Homo sapiens: one gene and its partners. Changing the gene in region 5 together with the main gene of any one other region gives a genetic interaction. Each region holds a gene or a part of one and is shown on either strand. Other genes may lie near its edges.

Region 1 (4,419 bases), on a different chromosome or scaffold from region 5:
ACATCTCTCTCCAAACCATACCTTTCTCTCTCCCCATGGCCACATCCTGGCCAAGGCCCCTCCCCTCCTGCTCAGGTCCCTGCCTGCCACCCAGTCTCCTGCCTCTAGTCCCTGCCAGAAGAACTCTTTTTTTTTTTTTGAGACAGACTCTCATTTTCACCCAGGCTGGAGTGCAGCTGGTGTGATCTCGGCTCACTGCAACCTCCGCCTCCCGGGTTCAAGCAATTCTCCTGTCTCAGGCTCCTGAGTAGTTGGAACTATAGGTGCGTGCCACCACGTCCAGCTAATTTTTGTATTTTTAGTAGAGACGGGGTTTCACCATATTGGTCAGGCTGGTCTCGAACTCCTGACCTCAGGTGATCCACCCACCTCAGCCTCCCAAAGTGCTGGGATTACAGACATGAGCCACTATGCCAGGCCTATTTTTTTTCTTTTTTTTTTTTGAGACGGAGTCTTCGCTCTGTCGCCCAGGCTGGAGTGCAGTGGCACGATCTCGGCTCACTGCAAGCTCTGCCTCCTGGGTTCACGCCATTCTCCTGCCTCAGCCTCCTGAGCAGCTGGGACTACAGGCGCCCGCCACCACGCCCAGCTAACTTTTTTTGTATTTTTAGTAGAGACGGAGTTTCACCATGTTAGCCAGGATGGTCTTGATCTCCTGACCTCGAGATCCGCCCGCCTCGGCCTCCCAAAGTACTGGGATTACAGGCGTAAACCACCACGCCCGGCCTTTTTTTTTTTTTTGAGACGAAGTCTTGCTCTGTTGCCCAGGCTGGAGTGCAGTGCCACAATCTTGGCTCACTGTAACCTCTGCCTCCTGGGCTCAAGCAATTCTCCTGCCTCAGCCTCTCAAGTAGCTGGGATTACAGGAGCCCACCATCACACCTGGCAAATTGTTGTATTTTTAGTAGAGACAGGGTTTCACCATGTTGGTCAGGCTGGTCTCAAACTCCTGACCTCAAGTGATCTGCCCACCTCGGCCCCCCAAACTGCTGGGATTATGGGCGTGAGCCACCATGTCTGGCCCCAGCTAATTTTTGTATTTTTAGTAAAGATGGGGTTTCGCCATGTTCACCAGGCCAGTCTCGAACTCCTGACCTCAGGTCATCTGCCTGCCTAACCATTCCAAAGTGCTGGGATTACAGGCATGAGCCACTGCGTTCAGCACCCAGAAGAAATCTTTCCAAAGCACAACTCTGGGCCGGGCATGGTGGCTCACGCCTGTAATCCCAGCACTTTGGGAGGCCGAGGCCGGTGGATCATGAGGTCAGGAGATCGAGACCGTCCTGGCCAACATGGTGAAACCCCACCTCTACTAAAAATACAAAAATTAGCTGGGTATAGTGGCATGCGCCTGTAGTCCCAGATACTCGGGAGGCTGAGGCAGGAGAATTGCTTGAACCCAGGAGGCAGAGGCTGCAGTGAGCCAAGATCACACCACTGCACTCCAGCCTGGCAACAGAGCAAGACTCCGTCTCAAAAAAAAAAAAAAAAGCACAAATCTGACCTGGCACCTTGCTTGCTAGAATCTGCCATGGCTCCCCAGTGCCCTCAGGAGCACAAAGATCAACTCATTACCGTGCCCTCTAGTGTGAGCTGACCCCATAGAATTTCTCTGGCCTCCTCCCTTACCACTGCCCATGCCATCCTTCTCCACTCTGCAGCCCGAGGAAGTCTGTGAAAATGTAAATCTGAGCACAAGGCTTACTCAAGAACTATGTATGGCTCCCCACTGCCTTCAAAATAGGGCCCACACTTCCAAGCCAAACCCCACAAAGCCCTGTGTGTCCTGCCAACAACCCTCTAGACCCTGCTGGGACCCTGATTCCAGCTGCTAGGAGGCCCAGCAGGGACAGAAAAAGGTGAGCTTACCTTTGGCGTAGGTGCTGACAAGGGTGGCAAAGTTAGCAAGGAGGGTGAGCGGGGAGAAGTCAGCAAGGTCGGTGATCTCCAGAGTATGCAGCAGGGACCGGAGGCGTTCAGCACAGAATCTGGCGGGGAGGAGAGACGGGGTCGGGGGGCAGACGGAAGCATGAGCAGGACCAGCAGCCCTGCCTCCGCCATCACGACGGTCACGTGCCTGTCTCCCCAGCCAATGAGCACTCAGTGAGGGTGGGCACTGGGCCTGTTTTGGAAACTTGCACCCCCACGCTGTACACCTGCATGTCACAAATAGCCATTGCCGCATAATGGCACAGACAGAGCAATAATCAGACACTCCAGAGTCATGTGGTCACTTGTCACACCTGCTAGCACGACCTCCTAAGTGGGTTCTTTTTTTCTTTTTCTTTTTTTTCTTTGTTCAGATGGAGTCTTGCCCTGTCATCCAGGCTGGAGAGCACTGGTACCATCTCGACTCCGCCTCCTGGGTTCAAATGATTCTCCTGCCTCAGCCTCCCAAGTAGCTGGGATTACAGGTGCCTGCCACCACACTCAGCTAATTTTTGTACTTTTAGTAGAGACGGACTTTCACTATGTTGGCCAGGCTGGTCTTGAACTTCTGACCTCGTGATCCACCTGCCTCAGCCTCCCAAAGTGCTGGGATGACAGGTGTGAGCCACTGCACCTGGCCCTAAGTGGGTTCTGATCAAAACAAGAGACGCACAATCACACCCAGAACCCCCCAGTCATGGCATTAATCCCGCATGGCCACATGGTCACGCATTCACACCCAGAGCCTCTCCCACTGCCTCTCACGCACCTATGGGGACACACACGGTGTCGGAACCCCATGGGCTCACAGAGGAATGCAGTCAACACCCACATCCCACAGAGTCCCACGGATACCACGTCCACACACTCACGCATGTGCAGGGCCACTCGGCCACAACCACACACAGGCAGGGCCGAGGCAGGGTCATAGAGCAGCTGGCTTTGAAGCCAGGTGGGCAGTCACACTTGCAAACCTGCCTCCCGCACGTCAGCCCTCCCAGCCTGGCTCCTCTAACCCCAGGCGCCTACCCCGGCTGGTCGCTAGCTGAGGATGAGTCTGTCCCCTCCACTGGGCCATGGAGCCTCTACGGCTGTGTCCCCAGCATGAAGCAGGCACTTGGGGAATGTGTGTTGAGTGACTGAGATCCCCTCTTTGCCCTCACAAGTCTCCAATCCTGGGGAAGATGGGCAAACCCACATGGAAGGTGGCCTCACCCACAGAGGCAGGGCAGCCAGGGCCTTTGGAGCCCACAGGCATGGCTTCAAGCCCCAACTACCGGGCACAGTGCTGTGTGGCTCTGGGCAAAGGCTTCCCCTCTGGGAGTCCCAGTGTCCTCATTTGCAGGGTGGGGATGCTGTACTGGGGGTGCAACTGAGGTAAGGAACATAAAGGGCTTAGCTCCTCCTTAGTGCTCAGGGCAGGGTAGGTGATTGGCTTCGCTGCTCTCTCATTAACCCACCAAAGAACCCTGTGAAGTAAAGACCCGACTCCTTGGCCATTTTACAAAGGAGGAAACTGCAGTTCAAAGAAGACCCATGACTTACCCAAAGGAAAAGCCCCCTCGTATCCCTTGGTCATTCTCTGCCTGCCCTGTGCCTCAAGAGACTGACTCCCCCAAAATGCGCCCAGACTACTCCATGGGGACGCCCCTGCCCTCAGGTTTGGAAGATTAGAGGCATCGGTGGGAAGATACATGGGCCGGGGACACCTCCTCCAGCTCCCAGCCTGCGAGGCCCTGGTACTGGTTTCTGCTCCCAGCAGAAGCCCCTGTCCAGGCCCCCACCAGTTGGTTCTCAACACACTCCCTCCCTGCCGCTGTGGCCTGGCTTAGCTCCCAGCTCTCACCTCCCACCCTCCTTGGCTCCTCCCCCAGCCCGCCCCTCTGTAAATGGTGCTCCCACTCTCTCTTGGGTGGGGGAGATTCTCCAATCCAGCCAGGTGTTGCCTGCCAGGCCCCTGCCCGACGCACGGACCCAGGATCAGCTCCAACCTTGCTCCCGGACCTCCCAGGTCAGACCAGACAAGGTCCCACGTGCCTCGCCCAGCTCACTCACTCCTGATGCTGCAGTGGTGACCTGGGGCTACAGGCGTGGAGGACACGGCTCTGCATAACCGGGACCTGCCGGGCCCCCACCCCGCGCGCTGTCTGGGGCCGCACCTGAGGGGCTTGCGCTGGATGCACACGCGCTGGGCCAGGCCGCTCAGGAAGGCGGGCGGGCTCTCCTGCACCACATGCTGCACACGCAGCCGCCACTTCACGTACTCCAGCAGCCGCCTCAGGAAGCCCAGGAAATGCTCGGCCGTGCGGATGGAGCCAGGCACTGCCTCTGCGAGGAGACGCTATCAGCGGCGACGGGGAGGCGGGAAAGGGACTGGGGGGCAGCGGGGGGTCGGGGCTCACCCTGCAGCACTTCGTCGGGCAGCACGGGGTTGGCCAGGTGGGCGTCCGTCTCCCGGGCGGCGCTGGCCTCCCGCAGCCCCTCCACCAG
Region 2 (4,419 bases), on a different chromosome or scaffold from region 5:
TGTACACTGCTACAACTGGCTAATTTTTAAATTTTTCTGTAGAGAGAAGGGCTTGCTATGTTGCCCAGGCAAGTCTTGAACTTCTGGGCTCAAGTGATCCTCCTGCCTCAGCCTCCCAAAGTGCTGGGATTACGGGCATGAGCCACTATACCCGGCCCTCCAGGAACCTTCTTTAAGAGTCAAGTGGGGATGGCTAAACTCCCAGTGTGGTTTCTCCCACTCAGTCTTCTCTATTTGGAAATTTCCAAAATTCAACTATAAGCAATTACTCTATACAGTTTAGAGTCAATGAGCCCCTACACTGCTACCACTTGGTCTGTGAAGACTGCCAACTTTCACTCAGTGCCACAATGTACTGGATACTGACTCAGGTGCTAACTATACAGTGATGACTAGGAATCAGTTCTTGATTTCAAGTAGCTTAGTCCTGGGGAAACAACAGAGAGTACTGGCAAACTATAATCCATTATATTACCTATCACTATAGCAGTAAGCACAGAGGGCTAGAGGGGACTTTGTAACGGGCATCTAACTAAGCTTAGAGGATCAGGGAAGGCTTCATTAAAAAAAGGTAATATGTAAATTGAGTCCTCAGTTAATCAGGTCAAGGGGGTCAAGAATGAGAAAATGTCAGGCAGAGGGTTAAACAAATAAGGCCTGGAGGTAAGAAAAACATGTTGAGCTTGCAGTCACAAATAATTCAATATGGCTGGAGCGTAGAACATAGAAGAGGACTGGTGAAGAATAGGGCTGCAAATGCAAGGAGGAGCCAGGTCACAAAGAATTGCTAATGCCACGCTCAGGAGGATTTACAGATGAGAAAGATCCCTGAAACAGTACAAAGAATGGATTAAAAGGGAAGAATAATGGCAGGGAAATCAGACAGTACTGTTGTAGTGACGCTCTGAGTCACAACCGTGGACTGAAATTCAGATAGTAGCAGTAGTGACTCAAAGGATTCATTTAAGGAACATAATAATGAATAAGATAGACTTTGCTGGTGGAAAAAACAAACTAAACAATAATAAAAAAGTATACCCTTTGAAAAGGCTAATAAAATAACATACTATGACAGAGAACAGAGGGGTTAGGTGTGACGAAAGGCTTCTTTGAATAGGTGGCATCTATGCTGAAACGAAAGAATAAGAAGTTTGACAGGGATCCAGGTTAATAAAAAATGAAGAAGAAAGGCCGGGCGCGGTAGCTCACATCTGTAATCCCAGCACTTTGGGAGGCCCAGGCAGGCGGATCACTTGAGGAGGTGTTGAGAGGATCACTTGAGGAGGTGTTCAACACCTGGCCAACGTGTTGAAACCCCGTCTCTACTAAAAATACAGAAATTAGCCAGGCATGGTGGCACATGCCTGTAGTCCCAGCTACTTGGGAGGCTGAGGCAGGAGAATGGCTTGTACCTGGGAGGTGGAGGTTGCAGTGAGCTGAGATTGCACCACCGCACTCCACCCTGGGTGACAGAGCGAGACTCCGTTTCAAAGAAAAAAAAAGGAAGAAAAAAAGCCTCTAAAAGACAAGACAGAAGAATAAAAGTAGACCAATTATGTGGAAAGACATAAAAAGAACTAGCATATTCCATAAGGACCAATGTGGCTATTCTAGTAAATTGGGGAAGGGAGACATGAGTAAGGCTGAAGACCTTACAGACCATGGTAAGAGTTTTTTACTCCAAGTATGAGAAGACAATCTAGGATTTTAAGCAAGCAATTAACACAACATGTTTGGGGCTATCACAACAGTGCAGATTTGAAAGCAGTAAAGATAGAGCAAAGAAGATAGCTGGAGTTGTATCTCGCAAGTAGAACAGACCAGATTTTGCTAATGGATTATAAAGGAGGCTAGGCAGATTTTCAACTAAGAATTGTATGAGTATAGGAGAGAGGTGGGGAAATATTTCAATTCAGATGTCTCAAGTTTGAAGTACCTGTGGGATACCTAAGCTGCAGTGAGAGATTTGGGAATCATCAGAACACACAGTGAATGATGCCATGGGAGTAGAGCTGATCACCAAGGGCAAGTAGAGAAAAAGGCAGCCTGTAAAGGGCAGGCAGAGAAAAAGAGGTTTAGAAGGTAAGTGAGAAGAATTAGCTAGTGAGAGAAGAGGAAAATCAAGAGGATTTGTTATTAGGAGAGTGAAGGAAAGGGAGTAGTTCAAGGAGGGAGTATTTCAAGGAGGAGTGGCTGGCAGTATACTAGGGCTATTCTTAGTAAAGGTGGATTGGTGATCTTAACAAAGAGCAATTTTAATGTGGTAGGGGTTGGTCAGTTTGCAGCAGGTTGAAGAGTAAATAAGGGTAAGGACCTCAAGGGAGTAATAGAAAAAACCCTTCCAACAAGCTGGATGATGAAGGGTAGATGAGACAGTGGACAGAGAGACCAGAGGGGCTCCTCATAATTGTGTGTGACTAGACCACAACTAAGACTTCGCAACCTGCAAATAACAAGAGGGCATTATCTGAGGATGGTACCCCTCTTCAATAAAATCCAAGAAACATTTATCATTGTTCTATGTCATTGATATGGAATGCATTTGATGTCTCAATTTTCAAAGCCCAACAACAAATGTTTATCCAATTCAAAACTCGCACTGGGGAGGGGAGGCAAGGGAGCATGTTAGCACCCTCTTCCAAGTCTATAAAGAAAAACGGGCCAGGCACGAAGGCTCACGCTTGTAATCCCAGCACTTTGGGAGGCCAAGGTGGGTAAATCATTTGAGGTTAGGAGTTCAAGACCAGCCTGGCCAACATGGTGAAACCCTGTCTCTACTAAAAATACAAAAATATAAAAAATAACTAAAAATACAAAAAAGAAAAATGTGGTGGCAGGTGCCTGTAATCCCAGCCACTTGGGAGGCTGAGGCAGGAAAATCGCTTGAACCCGGGAGGCGGAGGCTGCAGTGAGCCGAGATCACGACGCTGCACTCAAGCCTGGGTGACAGAGCAAGACTCTGTCTCAAAACACAAAACAAAACAAAACAAAACAAAACAAAACAAAACAAAAACGAACAAACACAAAAAAGAAACATTAATAGTGCGGTAAAAATTGGCCTAAGACAGATTATGGGCTAACTCATATAAACACAGTAAGATATTGTTAACATGATTTGAGACATTCTATTAAAGTTCAACTAAATGATCAACCAAAATTTGGAGTAGAACCCTGTGATTATAATAAAGAAAAAAAGTAAATATTTAGAAAGGCAACCTTTCTCTTCTTTCAGCAGGACCCTCTCCAAAAAGTGTGATGGGTTCCCCCAAGGCTCTAAGGCAAGCTTTGACCTCTGAGTCATCTGTGGAAACATTGATCTGCCGGGCTCGCTTCCTTCTCTCAAACTCAGCCAATACTTCTGCCTGTCGCTCGCTGATATGCTCTTCAATTTCAAACACTTCTCCTATTAAAAAGAAAACAGGCAACATCAGCAGATCTTCTTCAAATAGAGAGAAATAATTTCTAGTAATTGCAGTCTGTGTATGCCCTGAGGGAAAAGTAACTGTCTATTACACATTTTATAGTTTACTGTTTTTCAGTTTATTAAATTATGCCAAACACATAAACCTAAATGACACAGCTTCAAAAGGCAAGAAAATGGTTCAAGCCACCTCTTGTTTCATTTATTAACTTTGTGCCTATATAAACACACACTTTGGCTGAGACCAGCAAGTAAGAGTACAGAACATCTTTTGCAAATGAGTTAACTAGGCTGTCTATCCAGAAGATGTAACAGAAACATTATTGTAACAACAGCCAAAGCTATTTATTCTCGAAAGGAGACCCAGTATAGGGATACTTAACAAATCATTAACTACTAAACTGCAAATAATTACCAGGAAAATGAGAGTTCCACAACTATAAGGATTTCTGGATAATCTAGCAATAGTTTTGAAACCCACACCAAAATACAAGTGTGATAAAAAATGAGAGGTACAGTGGTGACGTTATGTTTAAAAACAGTATTAAAAGTTTAAAAAGTCACTAGGCTACAGTGCATGTGTTTAGAAAATGTGTGGGAGGATCAATAAGAAACCTGACAGATGTCCCTACTGCAGAGGAGTCTTCATTTTATGCCCTTTGGCATTGTCTGAATTTCTTAGGACAAATATGCATAATTTTATTTTTAAAATATAGTAGACCTCTCATTACTGACATGGAAAGATATCCTCAATGGTATATAAATGAAAAATGGGGGTTATACAACAATTTACGTATTGTGTTTTCATTTATGGAAAAAATTACATACTTTTTAGCTGTATTAAAATTCTCAGAAAGATATACAATCAATTAATTTTAAAAATACAGGATTTTCTACTTCACACATTTATACATTGATCTTTTAAAAGAAAATAACTTTTTTTTTTGAGACAGGGTCTCGCTCTGTTGTTCAGGCTGGAGTGCAGTGGCACAGTCATG
Region 3 (4,419 bases), on a different chromosome or scaffold from region 5:
GTGCTAGAAGATGATTAGTTTATCCTCCAACTCTGAGAGTCAATCATTCATATTTTTATCAAAGGCCACCGAGGAAAAAAGCATTCCTTTTTTCTTCATAACAGCATTTTTATAACTACATCATGTATCAGTTTTATCTGACATTTTCAATTTAATTCAGCAATACTTCACAGTGAACATGCAGCATCTCTTTATATGAAACAGATACTCAAAAAATATAAGCAGGTAATAATTTTTTAAAAATCATATAAAAGTTAATGTGAAGAGACTCAGAAAATAAATCATTTGAGCAGATTCTTTAAGTCTTCAAAACAAAAGGCAGGTGTAATTTATTTTTTTAACTTTTTGTAGAGATGGGATCTTGCTTGCTATGTTGCCCAGGCTGGGCTCAAATTCCTGGCTTCAAGCAATCCTCCCGCTTTGGCCTCTGAAAGTGCTGGAATTACAGGCATTATCCATCATGCCTGGCCGGGAGGTGCGATTTTATTTCAAGAAAGTATTTAGCATTTAAAGTGGAGATATACTGACTAGTCAGTAGTGCTAGCATTTATTTTCTTTTCACATTGACACTTGGAAAATAAGAAATGAGTTCAATTGAACCCATTTAATATGAAAGTCTTTGTTTAGTCACAAATTTATTTTTACAACAAAGCACTTTTGAGATAATTTAAAATACACATGCTTTGATTGAAGAGTGATTGCAAATGGGTCCAGTTTTCTTCCACCTGGGATGACAAATTTGTTATTTCTTCTAGGAGTACTGGCTCTGAAGGAAGCATTTTAAGGTGTAACTGCAAAGAAAAATATGATGATTGAACATTTAAGAAAATTAAAATTTTACCTAATCTGGATTCAATTTTTCTACCAAGGAACCACAAAAGACACTAGGTGAATATTTGTTTTCTTAAGCGCTGGTTTATTACTATCTCCCATTTTCCCCTCCTCTATCAAACTTTTTTTATTATAAGGTCCTTTATGATACTGTGACTTCCTTGGTAGAATTAAAGTGGTCATCACTCCTCTCCACCTAAGGACAGTCCTGATACTTTTAAATAATCAGATCAAGTGAACTCATTTTAGGTATAAATGGGATAAAGAATCAAATCTATTATCACCAAAAATCGGCATCATCTACCTCCTTCAACACATTATACCACTAAAGTAGACCCTCAAAACATGAGTTCACCACTATATTAATCATAAAAGTAACAGTCTTATTGTCAAATGATCAAAACTCCTTTAATAATGATAGAAGTGAACATTTTGATTTCAGTAGTAGAAAAAAAAACAAACAAACCCAACTTTCTATTCATAATCACAAAAAACTTCCAAAATGTAACTAACCACTAAAAAAAGAAAAGTTAATGGTTCAGCACATTGGATCAAGCAGATAGCATAAAAATGTCAGGGGGTAAAGTCAAAATTATTGTGCAGTTGAGTAAAAAAACAAAACAAGACTCCCAAGCTGCACTGTCTAGCTGTCCAATGTGGTAGTCACTAGCCACATGCGGTTATTTAAATTTAAATTAATTAAAATTCTATAAAATTAAAAATCCAGTTTCTTGATCACACTATTTACATTTCAAGAACTCAATAGCTACATGTGGCAAGTGGCTATGATACTGGAAAGGATGGATATACAGCATACCCATCTTTGCAGAAAGTTCTGTTAGATAGCACTGCCCCAGAAGAAGACAAGCTGGGCAGTACTGTCTTACATTAGACTTACCTTTAGAAACAATGCAAGGTATGCCTGGGCTAACTCAAAATCACGCTTTCTGTCCAGCATCATCCCAATCATTTTCAAGAAGCTCTGCATAACTTCTATGGACCCACCACAATCAGGAGACAAGCTTCGCAGCTCTGTTTCAATTCCTGATGGGCCTGATTCTTTCAGAAGGTTGAGAGCAGTGTCATCTGCATTAAATTTTAATCCAGTTATGACTTGATTATAATCATTTAACTTAGAAAATTACAGTTTTCCTTTTATACCCCAAATAGGATATATTTAAATGGTACAGGAAATTCTTCCTGTGGGTTAATTTTTTCATATTATGTAGTAGAATGAAACCCAAAATAATTGAAAATCAGTACAAACGATGACACCAATATAAGAGAAAGTACTCAAAACACATTTTTTTTCTGTAATTTAAACCTTTTTCCTGTTAATAAAGAAAATCTAATGCCTTGCAACAGGCACGTTAGAATTTTAAAATGCTCATATATCTTCTCTCAGAGTAAATCCTAATTAAGAAGCCTATAACGATACATACAAAAGTATTAATAGTGGTTAGCATTGGGAATCTGATGAGGTAAAATAATTTTTCTTTTCTATTGTTATAAAGTTATAAAAGTACATAATCATTAGGAACTATATTACTAACAGTACAGAATATATAAAATCAGAGGGGGAAGACCCCATCCCTTATTCTTACCCAGCCCAAACCTACTTCTTTTCCCTAGAAGAATTGTTTCATATGCACCCTAGGAAAACACACTCAGTACACTTACAGCTATTTTTATGAGTCATTTGAGAACTGCAATGACTATGCTTTAGCTTTCTGAAAAAGAGTATCACCAATGACAAAAGTCTAATCACTTTTAGATCCTTCAGTATATAGTAAACAATAGTGTTTTTATTTCTTTGTCTCCCCATAAACATAACAAGTCATTTACAAGGGCTCATCAGTATCATTCTCTGACTTTTGCTAATGTGGACTCAAGTAATCTCGGTATGAAAACAAAAGCATTTGAATCAAAACAAGAGGACAAGTTAAAATTATTAGGAGAGTGACTACAGTTTTTTAAATGATTACAGTTCTTATGGCTAATCACTATTAGCTACAGACTGTAGCCTTCGAAATTTAAATATATGAACACAACAGACAGATTAAAACATTTCCTTTTTAATAAAATAATTTAGGAATATATGAAATCACCTAAGCAGTCCGCTGAATTACAAATTATAAATAAAAACAAAAGACTTGCAAATTACTTGCTACAAAAACGACAAACAAAACTTTTACATTTAATTCACAACAAGAAGGATCTCCTTATTATAAATATAGTCAATAACTGTGTCCATCTCCAATAGCAAAAAGTAAGTTAGATATATGAAAAATCTTCAACAGATTTTTATAATATCAATACCATTTGAGTTTAGTGGGCTTATTTAATATAAATGCTAAAATTACGTCAAATTAAAACCAAAATTTCAATCTTTTTGATTTTTACTATCTTAACTACTGAGAACGCTGATATTTCCTTCAATTTCTCCTCATATACAGTAAAATAAGCTAAATATATTAGTTAAAATATCTTATAATTCAACTTACACTTATTATTTACCAGTCCTTCTTCAAGTTTCAAGCAGAAATCTGATTTTTGAGCCAAAACTCCAAGATTTACCACTTTAGACTTAAACAAAAACAAATACACATTATTCAAATAATTCAAGTATCACCCAAAAATGTATAGTTTGTAATTAAAAGCTATCATTAATTTACCCTATATCTGTAAAACTAGGTCTTGGTAAAGAAGTGCAGAAAACACATACAAACATACACCGATATACTTAGAATCTTCTAATTTGTTTTTTACCTGCTGGGGATCATTATTTTGTTCAGGTGCAGCATATCTGGGTACAAGGCCAGGAATTGTTGGAATGAAAAATGGTGCTGATTTGGGTACTTTGGGTGGTTCCTTTGGTTTATTCTTTTTCTGATTAAGAGAAAATGAGAAAGAAAAATAGGAATTATCTTGCCAACAGTTTCTCATATTTAATTTCAAATCAATTTTAAAACAAATACCAAAAAGTAAAAGAGGAATGAAACTCTTTCACATAAGAATGTTAAAATATGATCTCTTCTGACCAATACCACAGCTATCCTTAACTTGGGCTTCCCAATGCAGATCTCTAGCACCCTTGCCGATAAGGCAGAAAAAAAGTGACAGGGCACAGGGGAAGTTCTAAGACAAACACAGCTCATTTTCCTGAAATATGAATATATTTACATGAAGATATAACAATTAAGTAATTTTAAACTTCCTTTTGTATTGAGTACAAACTCTTTCACAAAACAGGATGGAAAGCAAAATTTACATAAATGCTTAATACAAAAGAGTTTCTTAAATTACTTTTCTCCAAAGGAACTTTGGAGCCAGAAGCAGACTGACATTATAAGTAATTTGATAATTTCCTTTCAAAGTACAGCTCTAATTTTTCTATTTTGCTGGAATTTTTTCTTTAGTACCTTGTGCTTTTAAAATTCAAGAAAACATGATTGCTGGTTTATAAGTATTTCAAATGCTAGTAAAATTATATTAGCAAAAACTCTACTGAAATTTCCATTGAAAGAATTTTGTTTTGGTAAGTACACTGCTACATATCAGTATCTCAGGAACATTTTTTTTTTTGAG
Region 4 (4,419 bases), on a different chromosome or scaffold from region 5:
TGGCACAATCTCGTGGCTCACTGCAAACTCTGCCTCCCGGGTTCAAGTGATTCTCCTGCCTCAGCCCCCCAAGTAGCTGAGATTACAGGCATGCGCCACCATGCCTGGCTAATTTTTGTATTTTTGGTAGAGATGGGGTTTCCCCATGTTGGCCAGCCTGGTCTCAAACTCCTGACCTCAAGTGATCTACTCGCCTTGGCCTACCAAAGTGCTGGGATTACAGGCGTGAGCCACCATGCCTGGCCTGGTTAGTGGCTAAGTTTTGACAAACAGGACACCAGCATTGGTAAGTGATATGCATAACTCCCAAGTCATATATATATATATATATATATATATATATATATATATATATATATATTTTTTTTTTTTTTTTTTTTGGAGATGGAGTCTCGCTTTGTCACCCACCCAGGATGGAGCACAGTGGCGCAATCTCGGCTCACTGTAACCTCCGCCTCTCGGATTCAAGTGATTCTCCTACCTCAGCCTCCTGAGTAGCTGGGATCACAGGCACATGCCACCATGTCAGGCTAATTTTTATATCTTTAGTAGAGATGGGTTTTCATCATGTTGGCCAGGCTGGTCTCGAACTCTTGATCTCAGGTGATCCGCCCACCTCAGCCTCCTAAAGTGCTGGGATTATAGGCGTGAGCCACAGCACCCAGCCCTAAGTCATATTTTGAAAAGGAAATGTCTCATTCTCTATTCCTGGCTTTTTCCTTCTTATTCATTGGAACATAGTCATGATAGTATAAGCCAACTTCAATCATGCAAATGAGAACACACTAAGAACACCAAGAAAAGAAAGGAAAAGAAAAGAAAGAAAAAGAAAAGAAAGAATGAACCTGAATCCCAAGATGGTCTCGTGGAATAAAACACTTCCACCAGCCCTGAAAAGCTCACCTCAGACTAGGATGGGAGAGAAAAATAAACTTCTATTTTTGGGGGGGTCCGCTGTGTTTTTTGGACCTTTTTGTTATAGCAGTTTAACCTGTATCCTAATCGATACAGGAATTATTAAGTGCAGGTAGAATGTTGCTGTTTAAAAATATTAAAATATGAGATGCTAGCTTAGCAAAAGGGTAGTGGGTAGCAGAGAAACAGATACTGCAGGCTGGAAAGGTGATAATCTCCTTGTTGGGATAACACAACATTTGGTAAACTGTTTCCTACAATAACTTGGGATACTGACCACACACCAACTAAACCTTAAAAAAGATGGTCTGAAAGGGTCAGAGTGTCGAAAAAGCCAACTTCTTTTGTATCCCCCCAAACAGAAAATGAGATTATCACCCTGAAGCAACTCAGTGTCAAAGATCAAACGTGCTGCTTTAGTTTCAGCTGGCCCCAAGATAGCCAATATTAAATCAAGGCAAGAGAGATAGGCTAAGCACAGAAGCCAGTAAATAATAGAAGAAAAGTTTCTATATCTAGAAGAAATCTATGAGTATGATTAATCCAACCCAAAGCTGATTGCAAGCAAATAGCCCAGAAGCTTAGTTAAGTATTTGAAGGAATTGTATTTCTAAACAAACCACAAACCTGGCCTTCAAAAGCCTGCGACTGATGATTGGGATATTTGTGCCCTCAATCCTGCACCAGCAGGAAGTGGGTTGTGAAAGTTCTGCCAAAGAAGGCATAGTCTCCAAAGCCCAACTCACAGAGAAAACTGAATGAGGAAGAACTTCCCAGAAAACAATGTCAGGTGTCTTGAAGGACAATGAACAAGGGATTTACTCCCTTATTGCACTTCTCTGGAGTGTGCAGTAGCAGAACCAGGGACAGCCAGGTCTAACTGAGGTAGTATTCTATTATATAGCAGGGAATCATTGCAATTCCTACCTAAAAAGGAGGATTTGATAACTGCTATGGACCAACGATTGCTATGTATTTTTCATTTTTCCAAATGAGAGTTATCCTGTTCCTATTCCATCATTGTATATGGGTGTATGGTGAAGGCAGGGGATATAATACTGGGTAAATAACTTGTATTTTGAGTCACTGGCCCATGAAAAGCCACAATACATATCTAATGGAGAAGAATATACATCATATAGAGATCCGGAATCACCTCCAGTAATAACCCATCCAGTTACTAGTAACTGGATGGGGCTTCAGGTTGTCTTCCTTGGACAAAGGCTATGTGTGCTCTGAAAGTAGGAAAAAGGATAAAGGGATAATAGGTAGCCAGAGGAACAGACTGAGGCACAGATTATGAAATGCCCTCCAGTGACTTTTCTCTACTTCATCATTTTAGGAATAAAATCGAAATTTTTGCTGAGCACATGGTCACCCAGTTAGTGATCACAATTCCTAACATCCTTTGTGCTAGGTATAATTGTGTAACTGAATTTTGTCCAGTGGAATGTGAGCAGAAGTGATGTATGTGACTTCAAGATCATGCTTCCATATGCTTGCCCTCCACATCCCCTGTCTCTTCCTCCCACAGGCCACAATGTGAACATAATCTTGTGTGAGTTAGCTTAATCATGAAGATGACAATGTCCAAGAGCAAAGTTTGGCAAACTTTTTTGGTAAAGAGCCAGATAGTAATTATTTTCAATTTTGTGGGCCATATAGCCTCTGTCACAACTATTCAATTCTACCATTGTAGTGATAAAGCAGCCATAAATAACACATAAATAAATAAGCATCATTGTGTTCCAACAAAATTTTATTTACAAAAACAGGCAACAGGTGAGCAATAAACCTGTTTCTGGTAACAGCTCATCTCTGAACTATGATGAAAGAGAAATAGAAACTTACACCTTGTTTAAGCCACCGTATTTTGCTTATTTATTTATTTGTTTTGAGATGGGGTCTTGCTCTGTCACCCAGGTTGGAGTGCAGTAGCATGATCAAGGCTCACTGCAGCTTTGACCTCCCAGTGTCAAGTGATCCTCCCACCTCAGCCTCCCAAGCAGCTGAGAGTACAGACGTGTGCCATGACACTCAGCTAATTTTTGTATTTTTAGTAGAGATAGGGTTTCACCATATTGCCCAGGCCGGTCTCGAATTCCAGGGCTCAAGTGATCTGTCCGCCTTAGCCTCCCAAAGTGCTAGGATTACAGGCAAGAGCCACCATGCCCGGCCAAGCCACTGTATTTTGAAGGCATCTTTATTACAGCAGTTCAAGAGTACATCCTAATATATACACAACATAGGAAATAGACCTCTAACACACATGAAATATATTTTGAAGAATCTATTTTGATGTAGAGACTGGGTTAGGACTCCAGAAAAGACTATGTTCAGGCCTCTAAACTATAGTTATTCCGAAGGCATCGCTCATGACTTTGAGAAACTACTTTCTATACAAAAAGATAGAATGTGTGAACTCTGAAGATATTTAGAGGACTTTCCAAAAACGATAATAGAGTTGATTAAATTCAGCTGAAGACTTGATGATACTCAACCCAGCAAATAAAACTACCTGATTATGAGCCTCTTAAAAAAATCAATCATAAGATTAAAAATTCCAAAACATTTCTCTTCTTTATCCCTGTATCCTGAAATGGTACGCTGATTTTTTTTAGAAAGCGTTAACTACTTTTAGAAGCTTGACATGTTCCTTGACAATTCTCTTAGTGGGAGAACAGTAGAATTTTTTTTCTCTAAGAAAAGGATATAATTTTATTAATTATTCAGAATCGTTGCTTAAAATGCCATTGTTCTCAGATTGGTACATGAACTGAATGAAAAATGTTCTATGTAAGAAAACATAAAGTAAGCCTTTTAATATATGTACCTGTTCCATGTGTTCAAATACTGCTGGAGTAGCAATAGTAGCAGGTGCTTCTTCAATAATCTTCTGATGCCTGCGTTGTACAGAGCAATCACGACCAAACAAAGAGATAGCATTGCCATATTGGTCCGCTAAGATCTGCACCTCCAGATGACGAGATTGTTTGGCTAGTCTCATCACAAATATGGGAGATCCAGGAACTTCAGCTTGAACCTGTATTAGAAAAGGGGGAAAAAAAAAACCAATTCTTAAATTTTAAACTTTTTATCTATCTTGATAAGCTACTTTGATTTCAACAAGCAGATGTCCAGAAGTGTCAGGAACCATGTTAATCAGCAGAAATACAAAACTGAATAAAATACAGTCCATGCTGTCATCTTTAATATCTTTAAGATGCTGCATTCTTACATAACCAATATTAATTGATAAATATGAAAACATACGAACATCTGGTGCATCACAAAGGTAAACAACAAAATATTTGAAAACATAGGCACATACACAAATCCAACAACAGGGCAAAATACTGCCATCCTGTACTCTGTACAACCAAATGTACAACTTGTTCCAGACAAGATACTTTCCTGGTTCACATTACATCATATATGGTATTGTTGCAGCCAAAGGACTTTCATCTTTAGTTTTGAAGAATATTACTGTTGGGGACAGAATTC
Region 5 (4,419 bases):
AATAGTTAAAATACATTCCAGGTAAACATGTTACATTAAGAAATAGTACTAGTAAGAAATTGGCACTCAAAGGAAAAATGCAAAAGTATTTTCAACATGAAAACACAAGACAGTGGAATTGGAAACTTTCGGATAAAACACTGTAACCCAGTTAGCTCTGTGGGGGTGTGGGGGGAGAGATGGGCCCTCAACATATCTGCAGATAACTTTTTTTTCCCCTAAATTCATCTAAATTACCTATCATTATCCCAAACAGGCACTTCAAACTATTAAACTAAAACACAGATCTTAATCTAGTTATGACTATTCTTCAAGAACTCATGTGAGTATCTTTCTTTAGAAAGAAAGTTTCATTTTATGACAGCTATTCAGTTTCTCAATGCAGAATTCATGCTATCCAGTATTAACACAGAAGTTACTAAATATAAATTCAGCTTTAAGGTAACTGCTGGGTTCTAAAAAACATTACTACACAATTATCAAGAAATCATTACTTTTTGACAAATGGAAATCTTCAGATAGTTTTTGCTGTCTAAAAAAAAATCCCCTAAAAAAAGTTATATACTGTTTGAAGAAAAAATGTTTAGAAGAAAAAAAAAATCAATGGAATACAAATGAGATGAACTTGTGCAAACTGTAACTTAACATGCCCCACAAAGTTTCTATGTATATATTAGGACAAAATTGTGCAATGGTGACAACAGTTTTGATAACCTATAAAAGTTAGGTTCTAAATTCCTATGCAGTGTGACTCAGTTAAATAGAGCCTAGAATGCCTACTTGGGAACATTCACTCAAATGATACAATATACGTCTGCTATATTCTTCCACAAACATGTTAATGCCTAAGTCTATGTAATTTAGCTTTTTTTAAAAAAACTTCAACAAGGATTTTTGTCTTTAAGGCTGTAATAATTAGGTAACATTTATTTCTAGAATTCTCCCCCTTTAAAATCTCTACAAAAACAAATCTTTTGTTAAACCATTCAAAGTTCACATAAAGGTAATTAACCACTACCTTAAAAAAATGCCCATCTACATCAAAAATTCAAGAGGCCTAAATATCCCCTCATAAGCACTGCAGTTCCTGAAGTATGGCCATTTCTTTCTCTGTGTAGAAACGAGGTACTGTGTAAGTCTTAACACCCTACCTAAACAGTGTTCCAAAGATCTGTAGTTTCACATAGCAATTCAGAAATCATAGTGATTTTTACATAGAAGTTTCCTTGTCTGTGAACTAGTTCAGGCACCTGTTTATTTGTACCCAGATAAAACTATTAATTTTTAAGTATATTTTAATTACTTATGCAGAGAAAACTGGAATATTACACATTTGGGTCAATATGAATATCTGACATACACCTTAATGTGTACAGTAATTGTCCTAAAAGAATCACAGTTATGCCAAATAAAAAAACAATATAATCAAGTTTATTCCTTTAAAACAATGAAGTGATTTACATAAAGTAGCTTGATCGAAGAGTTTCAGTGGAATCGTAGCAAAACAATTATAGAGCTGGCACAGAGACCAAACCCCTTCTTTGCAAAACTAAAATACGCATCGTGTTATCTCTGGGTCGTATACCAAAGGCCTTAGTAAGATATTACAGACCACACTAGCACTACCTAAGGACCGGGATTATGTCTCTTGTTTGGGGATACCATATACCCAGTGCCTTGTGTGGTGACTGGCATCTGGTAGGCACTCAATAAATATTTGCTGAATAAATGAGTTCTGCAAAACAGGTTTATGAGGCCAAGGTGGGTGAATCACTTGAGGTCAGGAGTTCGAGACCAGCCTGGCCAACAGGGTGAAACCCCGTCTCTCCTAAAAATACAAAAATTAGTTGAGTGTAGTGGCACACGCCTGTAATCCCAGCTACTCAGGAGGCCGAGGCACGAGAATCGCTTGAACCTGGGAGATGGAGGTTGCAGTGAGCTGAGATGGCGCCACTGCATTCCAGCCTGGGTGACAAGAGCGAGACTCTGACACCAAAAAAAAAAAGTAAGCTTCATGAATTAAAGTATTTTTCATTGCATGAAGATTTCTGGTTACTAAAACAATGGAATGTATTACTGTTACCAGGAGTAGTCCTAGTTATAGATTACCTAAGGAATTCTTTCAGCACTATCTTTATTAAATTCTCCTTCCACTGGATAGGGTTCTGTCTATTCATACCAGGTTTGAAAAATCCTACTGTCGCTAATGGATTGGGCAGCAAAGAGATGTTCAAAGCATCAGCCACCACCTGAAAATTAGTGATTAGGTCAAATCCCTTTATGGTATCTGTCAGATTCTCTTGAGCCCTGAGGAAATAAGATGTAGGGCATTTCTGATGTGACTCAGTGGGAAAACTTCATGGAGATATCCACAGCAGCAGTAAATCTTATGGTTAGGGGAATTACAAGTATTAAAACTGCATCAAGTCATGGGGCATGTGGAAGGTAGGGAGGCAAGATGACACTAATATGGAAGAAGAGTCCTAAAACGAGAATGGATATTCAAATATAAACTTCACCTCTTGCACAATTTTGCCCAAGACTGGCACTGAAGATGGTGTAACATAGGTTAAAAATTTACAGATTGTGCTGAGCTTGACAAATAAGTGTATCCTTATGTAAATGGAATATAAATTACATAGTTGTAAAAAAAAAAAACTAAGAGTTTGAGATGACTTCTTTTAACATGAAGAAATGGATAGTAAGTGATGTCCTCAAAATCAGAGTCCTAAAAGACACCTATCTAGAACCTAAGTCACCTTCTTCCTAGTCCAGTGATACTTTCACCTCACCATGCCATCTCACTTCATTTATTTTAAAATAAGTAACATTTTAAATTTATCAAAAGGATTGTTTTTATTTTTATTTTAAAGCATTATTAAATATGGATCAGACTTGAAAAGTGTTTATGCAATGTTAATTTAACCAGTGTTAAGAGAACTAGCCAAACCTAGAGATTGTAAAACTTTTTCACTTCATTGTTTAAAAAAAAAATTAATGTCTTGGCACACCACCACCCCAAAATCTCAACTTTTGAGTTAATATTTAAAAGTAATTTTTAAAAAAGAGTTTGTTTTCTTAAGAAACAAAAGCAATGCTCTTGATTTGTCAGCAGGACCACCACAGAGTGAGATTGTATCTTGTTGAGCTATCCAAACTGCCCTAGTCCCTCCCCATTTTGACTAACCAATGCATGACAACACTGGATGACCGTGGGGACACAGTCCATGCTGTGAAACTCTCTATGAAAGCTCAAAGGTTCACACAGGGCCTGGCCTTGCAACCTTGGTCTCTTCAACACCTAATAAGCTATAACTGGCCCAAATAATCTTTTAATGTCACAAGCAGAATTAAAACTATCTTCAAAGACTCAAGTTGAAGAAAAGATTTAAAGTTATACTATGAAAGAGCAGTCTGACACAGGGAGACTACATTTAATTCCTATGAGAATTTTTTATACTTGTTAAAATCTTTTCAATTATTATAAAAATTTAGTAGCATGTAAATATAGCCCCAAAATGGTTGCTATAATAATCCCCATTTCATACTGGGTCTGCCTTAACAGGAAAAGCTATTAGGAGTCTTTATAGTAATTTATCTAATGTGAAAAGGAAATGGCCTTATAATAGTTTCCATTGCCTTGTAATTTTTTTCCATTTTTTTCTTTTTATAGAAAAAATATAATATTTTGGGGAGAGTGACCATGACTAATAGCAGTGGAAAGGAGACAAAACCTTTGTGAACAGTGTAACTTTACATTCATCAGGGATGACAAACTATAGGACATGATGCCTAGAAGAATCATCATCAGGAAGCCCATAAATTTGTGTTCCCTCAATGTTTCAGTAAAAACCAATTAGAAGGTCTCAACTGAAATTAGTAATTAATCCATTTATGTGACTAGATAAAACACAGAATAGGGATGATTCAAAAGCTTCATTAATTTGTTTCACACCAACATTCACAATTGGTAAGAAAAATAAGAAGTAATCAACTGCATGCACCAAAAGCCCCAAGACAGAAATCTTAGGTATTCAGTTTCTTTTTCACAGGCATTGCTAGTTCAAAAACCAAAACTCTGGGAATACTGGCACTTAGAGGAAAAAAAAACTTCCACTGTCATTTTAAAATAAGCATTTAAGGTAAAAGCTAACAGTCTGCATGGAGCAGGAAAAAAATTAGGTAATGCTAAAACAAATGCTAATAATTTAGTGTAATGTACAAAAATTACCACTTGTACTAGTATGCCTTAAGAAAAAAGTACAAATTGTATTTACATAATTACACACTTTGTCTTTGACTTCTTTTTCTTCTTTTTACCATCTTTGCTCATCTTTTCTTTATGTTTTCGAATTTCTCGAACTAATGTATAGAAGGCATCATCAACACCCTGAAATACATAAAAAGTATTAAAATGTG
Region 6 (4,419 bases), on a different chromosome or scaffold from region 5:
GTGGCAAAGGACAATTTGGATTCGGCCTCCCACAGCTTCATTTGTAATGCTTTCAAGACATCTTCCATCTATTGAATTTAAAAAATAAAAAAATAAAGAAACACACATATAATTAAAAATTATACATGGTTAAATATAATTAAGATATACACTTAATGCAATTTTGGATATGTCATACATTACAAGGTAGATATTCAGTGTTTAACAAAACTATTTAGAGGCATAAATTTTTTAAAAATAAAGCATAATTCTATCAACAGTAGTTCTCAACCTATAATCTACATCTCTTTTATACAATCATCACCATCTCACCTATCTGGCAATGAGAAAATGTTAACATCCAACAACAAGGCTATTTATACCACAAGAATTGAATCAAACAAAATACTGATTTGAATCAAAGATGTATTTCTAGCTTTGCAGTGTTTTAATATATAGTTTTGATTTTGACATGACATGTCTTCCTCATTATTTTGTTGATTAAGCTTTAGCTTTTGAGTTCCCCAAAAATCAACTTTACTAACAACTGAAATGAAATAAGCACACTCTTCCTGCAATCAACACAGATGACGTTATGAGAATTATCGTTTGTGGGGGAGCACTTCTTCACTGACAAACTGTTCATACAAAGATATAAAATGTACAGAATAAAATTACCTGTGTTAGAGACTTTTCTATTTCAACTCTGCTTTCAAGATTAAAAAGCTCTTTATCTTCTGACACAATTTGCTTTTCAGAGGACCCTAAAACATAACTGAAGTACGGTACAAGGTTAAAATACAAGCTGGGTGTGGTGGCATGCACTTGTTCCCAGCTATTCAGGAGGCTGAGACAGAAGGATCATCTGAGGCTAGGAGTTTGAAACCAGCCTGGGCAACACAAGACCCCGGGCAATATGCCTGTAGTCTTAGCTACTTGGGAGGCTGAGGCAGGAGGATCGCTGGAGCCCAGGAGTTCAAGGATGCAGAAAGCTATGACCACAGCACTGCACTCCAGCCTGGGCGACAGAGTGAGACCCCATATCTTAAAAAAATAAGTTTTAAAATAAATAAAAATAAAAAGCTGGGGGCAGGGGGCAATATCCTACTGAACTACTTTCAATTTTTAAAAACAACTGAATATACTTTTATTCCAAAAATTTTCTCACAGTGTTTTCTCCTACAATTTAGAGTGTCTGACTTTTCCAATACCAAATAAAGAAGGAGGTCAAAGCAAAAAAAAAAAAAATTACTGGCTTGTTAGAAATCATTACTTGAAAATATATTTAACCAAACAGTATTGATTTAGTTCTGACAATTCCGTGCCTTAACTTTCTGAAACACCAGTTGTGAGGTAAACATTTATATATCAAACTTACCTTTCAATGGCTTCAACACTGAGGCAAAACAAGTCTCTCTTGTAATCAAGATTCTTGGGCGTGCATCTGTACACGTAGCCAAGATTGAGTGAGCACCCCGCGCAGCACAAAGTCTCAAGGACGCTGCAATAAAGAAATGTCTTGCTTTAGGAAACGAAGCAGCAACTCATTATAATAAAAATCTCACTGTTAAAATCCATAAACACCTCAGTTTCTCAAGTATGCTATTCTGACCACACTAGGTCATACATAAAGGATAGGAAAAAATGATAGTAAGATATTTACAATAAAAATGTAAAGACAGCCACGATGCCTTAAGTATCAAATGACAAGGGACATACAAAAAAGTGACAAGAGAGAATATTGAGGTGGTGTTTTTCTAGAATATAAATTCCTCCATCTGGTACTAATGTAACAAAGTGGAGAATAAATATTTTAGCCTCGCCAGCCATCTGGTGTCTGTCACTACTCACCTCTGCCATTGTAAAACGGAAGCACCTATAGACAATACTAACTGAATAACCTGTGTTCCAATAAACTCGTATTCACAAATGGGTGCCCGCCCCATGGGCCATAGTTTACCAAACTCTGCTCTAGTGGAAGGTAATACTGCTTGGCTTAATAAAAAAAAAGTCTCTAAAGTTAGATGACAACCCATGTAATTGTTTCTTCATTCTAGTTACCTCTCAACTCAGGTTCCACACACTTGAATATACCCTCCCCCAAAGCCTATTCATGTCTCCTTAAAACCTGGCTTAGAATCCAGTGTCTCCCAAACGCCTTGTTGAACTGACCCATCCAAATTTACCATTCTATAAATATACTAAAATTACCATTCCAACACATAGCAAAATGATAACTAGAGATTTAAATCTAGTAGTGATCACAGTAGTAAAACATACACCACAAACGATTTTTATTACAAAAGTATTCTAACTCCTACTCAGTATGTGAAACACTTGTAATCACTAAATATCCATTCCTGCTATCAAGCAAAAGGGAGCTACCCAAGACTCACAGATTATAGACTACATCATTGTTTACTTACAGATACTGAGACACTGTTAATTATTACAGCAACATATGGAACAAAGAACAAAATGGATCACCATCTGATTAAGTCATGAATTCTCACTGATGATGTGATTAGCTGGATAGTATGCCACTGATTACATATTAAGTGTCTACGGGCTTTTATAAGCTTCTATATTTTAGTTTTATAGTAGAAATAGTCTCGCTATGTTGCCCAGGCTGGTCTCGAACTCCTAGCCTCAAGCAATCCTCCACCTTGGCCTCCCAAATGTGAGATTACTGGCAGGAGTCACCATACCCAGCCAGCTTGTTTAAATGTTTATATGAGAAATAAAAAGCATGTCGGTAAATCCCACTTAAATTACTCACAGTGAACAGGTAAACCTCCATGCTATATATCAAACCTCATTACCATTATAAGACCGCCTCACACCATTACCAAGACTGCAAACTAATATCTAATGTCATCAGCCAAGAAAGGACACTCAGAGAAACCAGAGGCTTGAACTCCCCAAATCCACTGAGCCATGAATAAGACTGTTTTATCCCGAGTTATCAAAATCAACCTAAACACCACCAAAAATAGGAACAAACCCATTCACACTTCTAGAATCATCTTGTGGAGCAATGAAGAGATGGTAGCTAGTATTAAGGCAGCAACTTTCCGCTTTCACAGTTGGCAAGAATTTGGCCAGCATTCACCCCTTTCATTGAACAGTAACATTGAGAAGGCAGTGCCAATAATCGTAAGGTGATGTTAGACAAGGAATAATCCGATTGTTAAGATCCTCAACAAAGGACAAAGTCAGACTTAACAGAGAAAACAGCACTGGCACCTTCACAACATATTTCTAAAGCCCACAGTGCTCTTGCTGACCATCAGCAGAAAGGCTCAGGCAGGTATCAAAAAATTCACAAGCATCCCAAAGCAACACGGGAGTGTGCAGCACACAACCCTAGTGAAGTCCAAGACAACTGAAGGCAGTCTAATCGATGGGTTTAGGTGATACAAACAGTATTAATAACTCTGGATCAAAGAGAGTGAATTCTCTATCAATCCTGATTAGAAAAAAGAAGAAAGTCTCGGTTTGGTGCTAGACTGTCTTTGACACTTGTCTCATAGTCGCAAATCTTTTAATAGTAACAGAACAGACCTCAGGCAGAGAACCAGCCAGGCAACAACATCTCAGCTAGAACTAATAACATTTGTTTTCACTGTAATTATCTTCAGAGTTACTTTCTAGTTATGGCAAGTATGTATTTATGATAGTAAAAACAATCCTTTTAAGACAAATTTAAATAAAAATTTTGAGTTGATTTAATTTTAAAAATTTAGTATGTAATAGCACAGTTGGTACCTGGTACACAAATAGGACAAAAATGATGGTGATATCAAAATGGCTAGAGCTAGAGCTAGAAAGTGGAGAAGAAAGAGCACTTCGAAGGCAGTAAGGAAGGGTAACAAGCATCATCCTAGCTCTTACTGCTAATTAGTCCTGTGACCTTAGCAAAGTTCTAGCCTCCCTGGGCCTAACTTTCTTCAACTACCAAATGAGAAATGATCTGAGGTGGGTTTTCCAAATTTTTATGGCCTGCATGCCGGCACCACAATTTCTGTCACATCCACAAACCATCTGTACTATTACTAATTTATCTTAAATGGAGAAACTTTTTTTCTTTTTTTTTTTTTTTCACTTTTATGGAAGAGATACATAGGGCAAAGGTTACAGAAGGGGGACACAGAGCTTCCAAGACCTTTCTAGGTACACCACCCTCCCGGCATCTCATATTCACCAATCTGGAAGTTCTCTAAAACCCATGGGTTTTTTGGAGGTTTTATAACACAGGCATGATTAATTACACCATTGCTGATAATCTCTAGCCCCTCTGCCCTCGATGGAGGTAGGAGAAGAGGTTGGGGTAGGGCCAAAACTTCCAACCCTCTAATCATGCCTTGGTCCTTCTGGCCCCCAATCCTGAAGCTACATAGAAGCCCCCCAGCCACAGTCACCTCATTAGGATTAAAAACG
Region 7 (4,846 bases), on a different chromosome or scaffold from region 5:
GAATCGCTTGAACCCGGGAGGCAGAGGTTGCAGTGAACCAAGATCGCACCACTGCACTCCAGCCTGGGCGATAGAGCGAGACTCTGTCTCAAAAAAAAAACAAACCCAAAAACCCCCAAAGGGTAGGAAACCTCAGTCAAACCACAATTTATCAGAGTGCGGCCCCAGTCTGGATACTTTTATTTTTGCACCATCATGCCTAATTTTTGTATTTCTAGCAGAGACAGGGTTTTGCCATGTTGGCTAGGCTGCTCTCGAACTCTTGACCTCAAGTGATCCGCCTGCCTCGGCCTCCCAAAGTGCTACGATTACAGGCATGAGCCACAGCACCCAGCCCCAAGTCTGGATACTTTTAATGACTTTAAAGCATAGCCAGGGCGGACCATCACTGATTTAGGTCATGGATGACAGAAACAGATTCTCACACTATCCTTCAGCCAGCACCCATGATGGGGGCAGACATGGTAATCAATTTCAGGTCTCAGAAGTCTTTGCTGCCATTATCAGTGGACTGGAGCTGTGGGAGAAGCTGCAGGGGAGAGAGGAGCAGGGCAGGTGTCAAGGAATTTGAACCTCACCTGCACTTCTCTAGGCTTTCTGGGCTGGAGCCCCTCTCCCAGGAGTCCACCCTGGTTTCCTAGGCAGCCCCTCCTCTGTGCAATTACTGCCCCTGCTCACTTCCTGACATTTTCCCATCATGCCTGGGCACTGAGCCTCCTTCAGCTGTCTCCTCTGTAGCGAGGGGCCCTGCGCGGGGCAGGGTAAAGCACATGTGTACCAGACAGGGCCCCCAACATGCACATTGTGGAGTGTGGTGGAGGCAGCTGGTTTCTGCCCACCTTTCCTGGGCAAAGGCTCCTGCTATCTCCTCCCCCACTCCCCAGACCCACTCGGGCCTCAGACTCTGCCCACCAAAGCCGCTTCCTCCCCCGTCCTGTGACAGATGGAACAACTGTCACCGGGGCGTTCAGCCTTCCTGCCAGAGAAATGTGGACATGGGAGATTCGGTGGGCTTCCACCCATTCTCATCCAAAGCAGTCATGAGGACCGTCACATTCGACCCTCCCACTGGCTCTGAGGGGTGGCATCACCACCGTGCATCCCAGTTGAGGAAATCAAGGCCCCTGGACCCCAAGAACCCAGAGAAAGATCAAGATGGGCGCTCTGGGACTCCCAAGCCAGAGCTCCTCCCCAGGCCCACCGTCCCTGGGTCTCCCCCACCTAGAAACTGACCCAGCCCACACGTGTTTCAAGGATGCATGCGCCTGACCTCCCAAGAGCTCGCCCAGAGTCTGGGGGACCAGGAGTGTGAGAGGGACTGGTGACTGGCCCAGGGGCAGAGTGGGTAGCAGAGGTGAGGAGGAAGAGAGACTCATGCAAAAGTGTTGTTTTTTATTTTCTTTCTTGGGCCAGCTGCAGCTTCCAACCAAGAAAACCTCAAAGCATTAGGGAAGGAGCAGGTGTGGGGCTGGGGTGGGGAGAATCCCCTAAGCTCCAGGGCCCAGGGTCTAACCTGAGAGGTCGGGGCTGCAGGAAGCTGGGGGAGGCTCCCGGGGCTGGGGGAAGAGGAGCCTGCCCCCAGCAGAAACAGCAGGTCTCAGCGGCTACATGTGCTTTAGAGCTTGGCTGGGGGACAAAAGTGGGAGAGAGAGAGAAACCGGCCTCATGACTCAGCTGGTCAGGAGATAGGGGGCCAGATGCTGACCCCAAATCCCCGGCAGCACCCCTAGCAAATAGGTCTGTATCAAAGATTCTGTACAGCTGGTTTTGGGGGTGAAGGGCACCTATGGGGGCTTAAATAAATGGACAGGGGGCAAGGGATGTAGCGAGAACAGAGGGTGACTGTCCGGCCAGCAGCCTGGGCCTCTGGCGCCCCTGCATGCTGACCCCCGGTGCCACCTGCCCACTGTGGCCCGCGGCACTCCCCAGATGGGAAAGGAGGGAAGCTCTCCAGCAAGTCTCGGCCCCACCTCTCTCTGAGCAGATGGGACAGGAAGACGGGCACTGGGGGGCTGGGTGGGGCTTAGCGCAGGTCCTCCTCATCGCCCTGGATGGTCTTCTTGATGCGCAGCAGCATGGTGGTGAGCCACTGGTCCAGCCGGGAGATGGAGTCGTATTCCTTCACCTGAGGGCACACCAGGTGATAGGCTGGCCATGCTCCCCCCGTTCCCAACCCTGCAGCCCAAGGGCACTTGTCCCAAGGTTTTCAAGATCTGTCTCTGTCACCCCTGGTCTCTGAGGAGGAGTAGAGGGAGGGCTTGAGGCCCCAACTCAGCCATGGGAGCTCCCTCTTGTCTGTCTTGACTATGCTGGGCACATCATTTCCCTTGGGGGAGAAAGATATTGTAGCTTTAAAAAAAAAAAAAGGTCCATGGCTGGGCGCAGTAGCTCACGCCTGTAATACCAGCACTTTGGGAGGCTGAGGCGGGCGGATCACGAGGTCAGGAGATTGAGACCATCCTGGCTAACAGTGAAACCCCGTCTCTACTAAAAATACAAAAAATTAGCCAGGCGTGGTGGTGGGCGCCTGTAGTCCCAGCTACTCGGGAGGCTGAGGCAGGAGAATGGCGTGAACCCGGGAGGCGGGGCTTGCAGTGAGCCGAGATCACGCCACTGCACTCCAGCCTGGGCGACAGAGCGAGACTCCGTCTCAAAAAAAAAAAAAAAAGTCCAGCATCCTCACTGAATGGGTGGGAAACTGAGGCCTGGAGATATGGAAAAGGCCACTCCTGAGTGCCATGGGACACGGGGGAGAGAAGCCACGGCCTGCTGGGCATCCCCTCCCTGAGCTCCTGGCTGAGTTGCCACCCACTGTCTGGGGCAGGAGGAACAGGATGGCATTTTCACTGTCCTCAGTTAGGGGCTTCCATTCCCAAGGGGCACCTAGGGAGAAATGCTTGACATGTGCCATTAGAGGAGTGAATCAGGACCTGAGCCGGACACCACTAAGCCCGGGAATGCTGGGAACAGAGAAAGGGAAGGGAGAGAGAGCCGCGTGGGCGGCTCCACCAGGCAGAGGGAAGCTGGCACCTCTCCCATGTCCTCAGCTCCACTCTCCTTCTCACCCCTTCCCTCCCCGTCTGTGCCTCCTGGGTGCCCAAGGCGCCCACTGTGAGTCTCACACACTCACCTGGGGGACTCAAGGAACCCTGGTCTTCAGAGGCAGACAGATGTGGCTCTGAACACCAGCTCTGTCCCTGAGGGGCCAAGGCCGAGCCTCCTGACCTCCCCAACCTCAGTGCCACCATCTATAAAATGGGGAGAACACTCCCTGCGCCTCTTGGCGCTACTTGTAAGGTTTCTGGGGTGACTGGAGAAAGAACTTCACAGTGGGCTGGGGGCCAGATGAAATGGGTGAATGTCATGGAGAGCGTGTCTGAGAAGGGCAGCTTTCCTAGGAGACCCATCCCCGTGAAGGGGCCTGGCCCCCCATGCTGGCCACTCACCGACTCGGTGTAGCTGTCCACATTCTGCTCCTCGTGGGCCTCTAGCAATTTCTGCAAGCAAATGGCAGAGAGGGGTCAGGGGCCTATGCTGACCTGAGGTCTGGCCTGGATTAGATGAAAGGACACGCTATCTGTATGCCAGGCCTGGGGCTGGGGCTTCCTGAGGACTCTCAGAGGGTCAATCCGTGTGGGTTAAACTGGGGATGGGTACGGGCGTGTTGCGATCCTGCTGCCCTATTCATCAGAAACGGCTTGCTCTCAGGGCAACCTTACCAACATAGAACATCACACAGAATGTGTGTGTGTGTGGGTATGGGGGGTGTGTGTGTTGGGTGTGGTGTGTGGTGGAGGTGTGTGTGTGTGTGGTGTGTGTGTTGGGGTGTGGTGTGTAGGGGCACGTGTGGTGTTTGGTGTGTGTTGAGTTGCGTGTGTGGTGTGTTCGGTGTGTGTGTGGGGTGTGTGTGGTGTGTGTAGTGTGTGTGCAATGTGTGTGTGTGGGGTGTGTCATGTGTGGTGTGTGTGCAGTGTGTTTTGTGTGTGGGGGGGTGTGTCGTGTGGTGTGTGTACTGTGCAATGTGTTTTGTGTGAGGGGTGTGTCGTGTGTGTGTAGTGTGTGTGCGATATGTGTGGTGTGTGATGTGTTTGCTGTGTGTGGTGTGTGTGTAGTGTGTGTGGGGTGTGTGGGGTGGTGTGTGTGTAGCGTGTGGTGTGATGTGTGTGGTGTGGTGTGATGTGTGTGGTGTGGTGTGTGTAGTGTATGTTTGGTGTGTGTGGTGTGGTGTGATGTGTGTGGTGTGGTGTGTGTAGTGTATGTTTGGTGTGTGTGGTGTGGTGTGGTGTGTGTAGTGTGTGTGTGTGTGTCCACCTAGCCATCCTGAGCTCCAGCACTCCCCGAGTTGTACTTTCTTCATCTGGAAAATGGAGACTCAAATGGCCAAACAAAACAAAACAAAACAAAACAAAACAAAGACACCCTCTGAGAACTACTGGACAAGTCTTGGCGATTGTCCCACCTGGAGCCCCAGCCACCCCCGTCTGAGGTTCGGGAAGGGGGAGGCCGGAGCACCCAGCACTTACTTTCATCAACTTGCATTCCCGGGAATCAGAGAAAGCTGGGAACAGCTCCTCATACTTTTGGACAGCCAGCTGGGCAGCAGGGAAGGGAGAAGATGAGTTAGTAACAAGAGGGTCCTCAGAGCTACTGGCCTAGCAGCTGAGGGGACTTGGGGATGTCGGGTGATATTGAGTCAGCTCTTGCACCCCTCCCCCAGCCTCAGGTGTCACCTGGCTCTGTGTCTGTCAGTACCTTCCCGTAGCTGAGCTCAGCACCAGCCTGGCTGCAGAGATGGCTGCAGGGAGAGGTGGGTGGAGGGGGAAGGTTCCCCAGATAGGCACCCACT

The links.
Region 1: changes in KRAS (region 5) and ERCC2 are lethal when combined (synthetic lethality), as found in Homo sapiens cells (2 studies listed by BioGRID, with this or other methods).
Region 2: changes in KRAS (region 5) and PRPF4 are lethal when combined (synthetic lethality), as found in Homo sapiens cells (2 studies listed by BioGRID, with this or other methods).
Region 3: changes in KRAS (region 5) and WDR36 are lethal when combined (synthetic lethality), as found in Homo sapiens cells (2 studies listed by BioGRID, with this or other methods).
Region 4: changes in KRAS (region 5) and ACACA are lethal when combined (synthetic lethality), as found in Homo sapiens cells (2 studies listed by BioGRID, with this or other methods).
Region 6: changes in KRAS (region 5) and MIS18A are lethal when combined (synthetic lethality), as found in Homo sapiens cells (2 studies listed by BioGRID, with this or other methods).
Region 7: changes in KRAS (region 5) and NAPA impair growth when combined (synthetic growth defect), as found in Homo sapiens cells (2 studies listed by BioGRID, with this or other methods).

The regions. Positions count from the first base shown.
Region 1 is NC_000019.10:45,359,655-45,364,073, forward strand, and holds part of ERCC2 (general transcription and DNA repair factor IIH helicase subunit XPD), read right to left. Parts: coding exon 4,332-4,419; intron 4,258-4,331; coding exon 4,089-4,257; intron 1,989-4,088; coding exon 1,870-1,988; intron 1-1,869. UniProt on the Homo sapiens protein: ATP-dependent 5'-3' DNA helicase. Component of the general transcription and DNA repair factor IIH (TFIIH) core complex, not absolutely essential for minimal transcription in vitro.
Region 2 is NC_000009.12:113,277,929-113,282,347, reverse strand, and holds part of PRPF4 (U4/U6 small nuclear ribonucleoprotein Prp4), read right to left. Parts: intron 3,404-4,419; coding exon 3,217-3,403; intron 1-3,216. UniProt on the Homo sapiens protein: Plays a role in pre-mRNA splicing as component of the U4/U6-U5 tri-snRNP complex that is involved in spliceosome assembly, and as component of the precatalytic spliceosome (spliceosome B complex).
Region 3 is NC_000005.10:111,123,106-111,127,524, reverse strand, and holds part of WDR36 (WD repeat-containing protein 36), read right to left. Parts: intron 3,721-4,419; coding exon 3,601-3,720; intron 3,418-3,600; coding exon 3,336-3,417; intron 1,918-3,335; coding exon 1,730-1,917; intron 792-1,729; coding exon 642-791; 3' UTR 1-641. UniProt on the Homo sapiens protein: Part of the small subunit (SSU) processome, first precursor of the small eukaryotic ribosomal subunit.
Region 4 is NC_000017.11:37,259,937-37,264,355, forward strand, and holds part of ACACA (acetyl-CoA carboxylase 1), read right to left. Parts: intron 3,959-4,419; coding exon 3,749-3,958; intron 1-3,748. UniProt on the Homo sapiens protein: Cytosolic enzyme that catalyzes the carboxylation of acetyl-CoA to malonyl-CoA, the first and rate-limiting step of de novo fatty acid biosynthesis.
Region 5 is NC_000012.12:25,205,522-25,209,940, forward strand, and holds part of KRAS (GTPase KRas), read right to left. Parts: intron 4,391-4,419; coding exon 4,274-4,390; 3' UTR 1-4,273. UniProt on the Homo sapiens protein: Ras proteins bind GDP/GTP and possess intrinsic GTPase activity. Plays an important role in the regulation of cell proliferation.
Region 6 is NC_000021.9:32,269,050-32,273,468, forward strand, and holds part of MIS18A (protein Mis18-alpha), read right to left. Parts: intron 1,481-4,419; coding exon 1,358-1,480; intron 755-1,357; coding exon 658-754; intron 69-657; coding exon 1-68. UniProt on the Homo sapiens protein: Required for recruitment of CENPA to centromeres and normal chromosome segregation during mitosis.
Region 7 is NC_000019.10:47,486,265-47,491,110, forward strand, and holds the end of NAPA (alpha-soluble NSF attachment protein), read right to left. Parts: intron 4,593-4,846; coding exon 4,524-4,592; intron 3,498-4,523; coding exon 3,447-3,497; intron 2,126-3,446; coding exon 2,024-2,125; 3' UTR 1,373-2,023; downstream 1-1,372. UniProt on the Homo sapiens protein: Required for vesicular transport between the endoplasmic reticulum and the Golgi apparatus. Together with GNA12 promotes CDH5 localization to plasma membrane.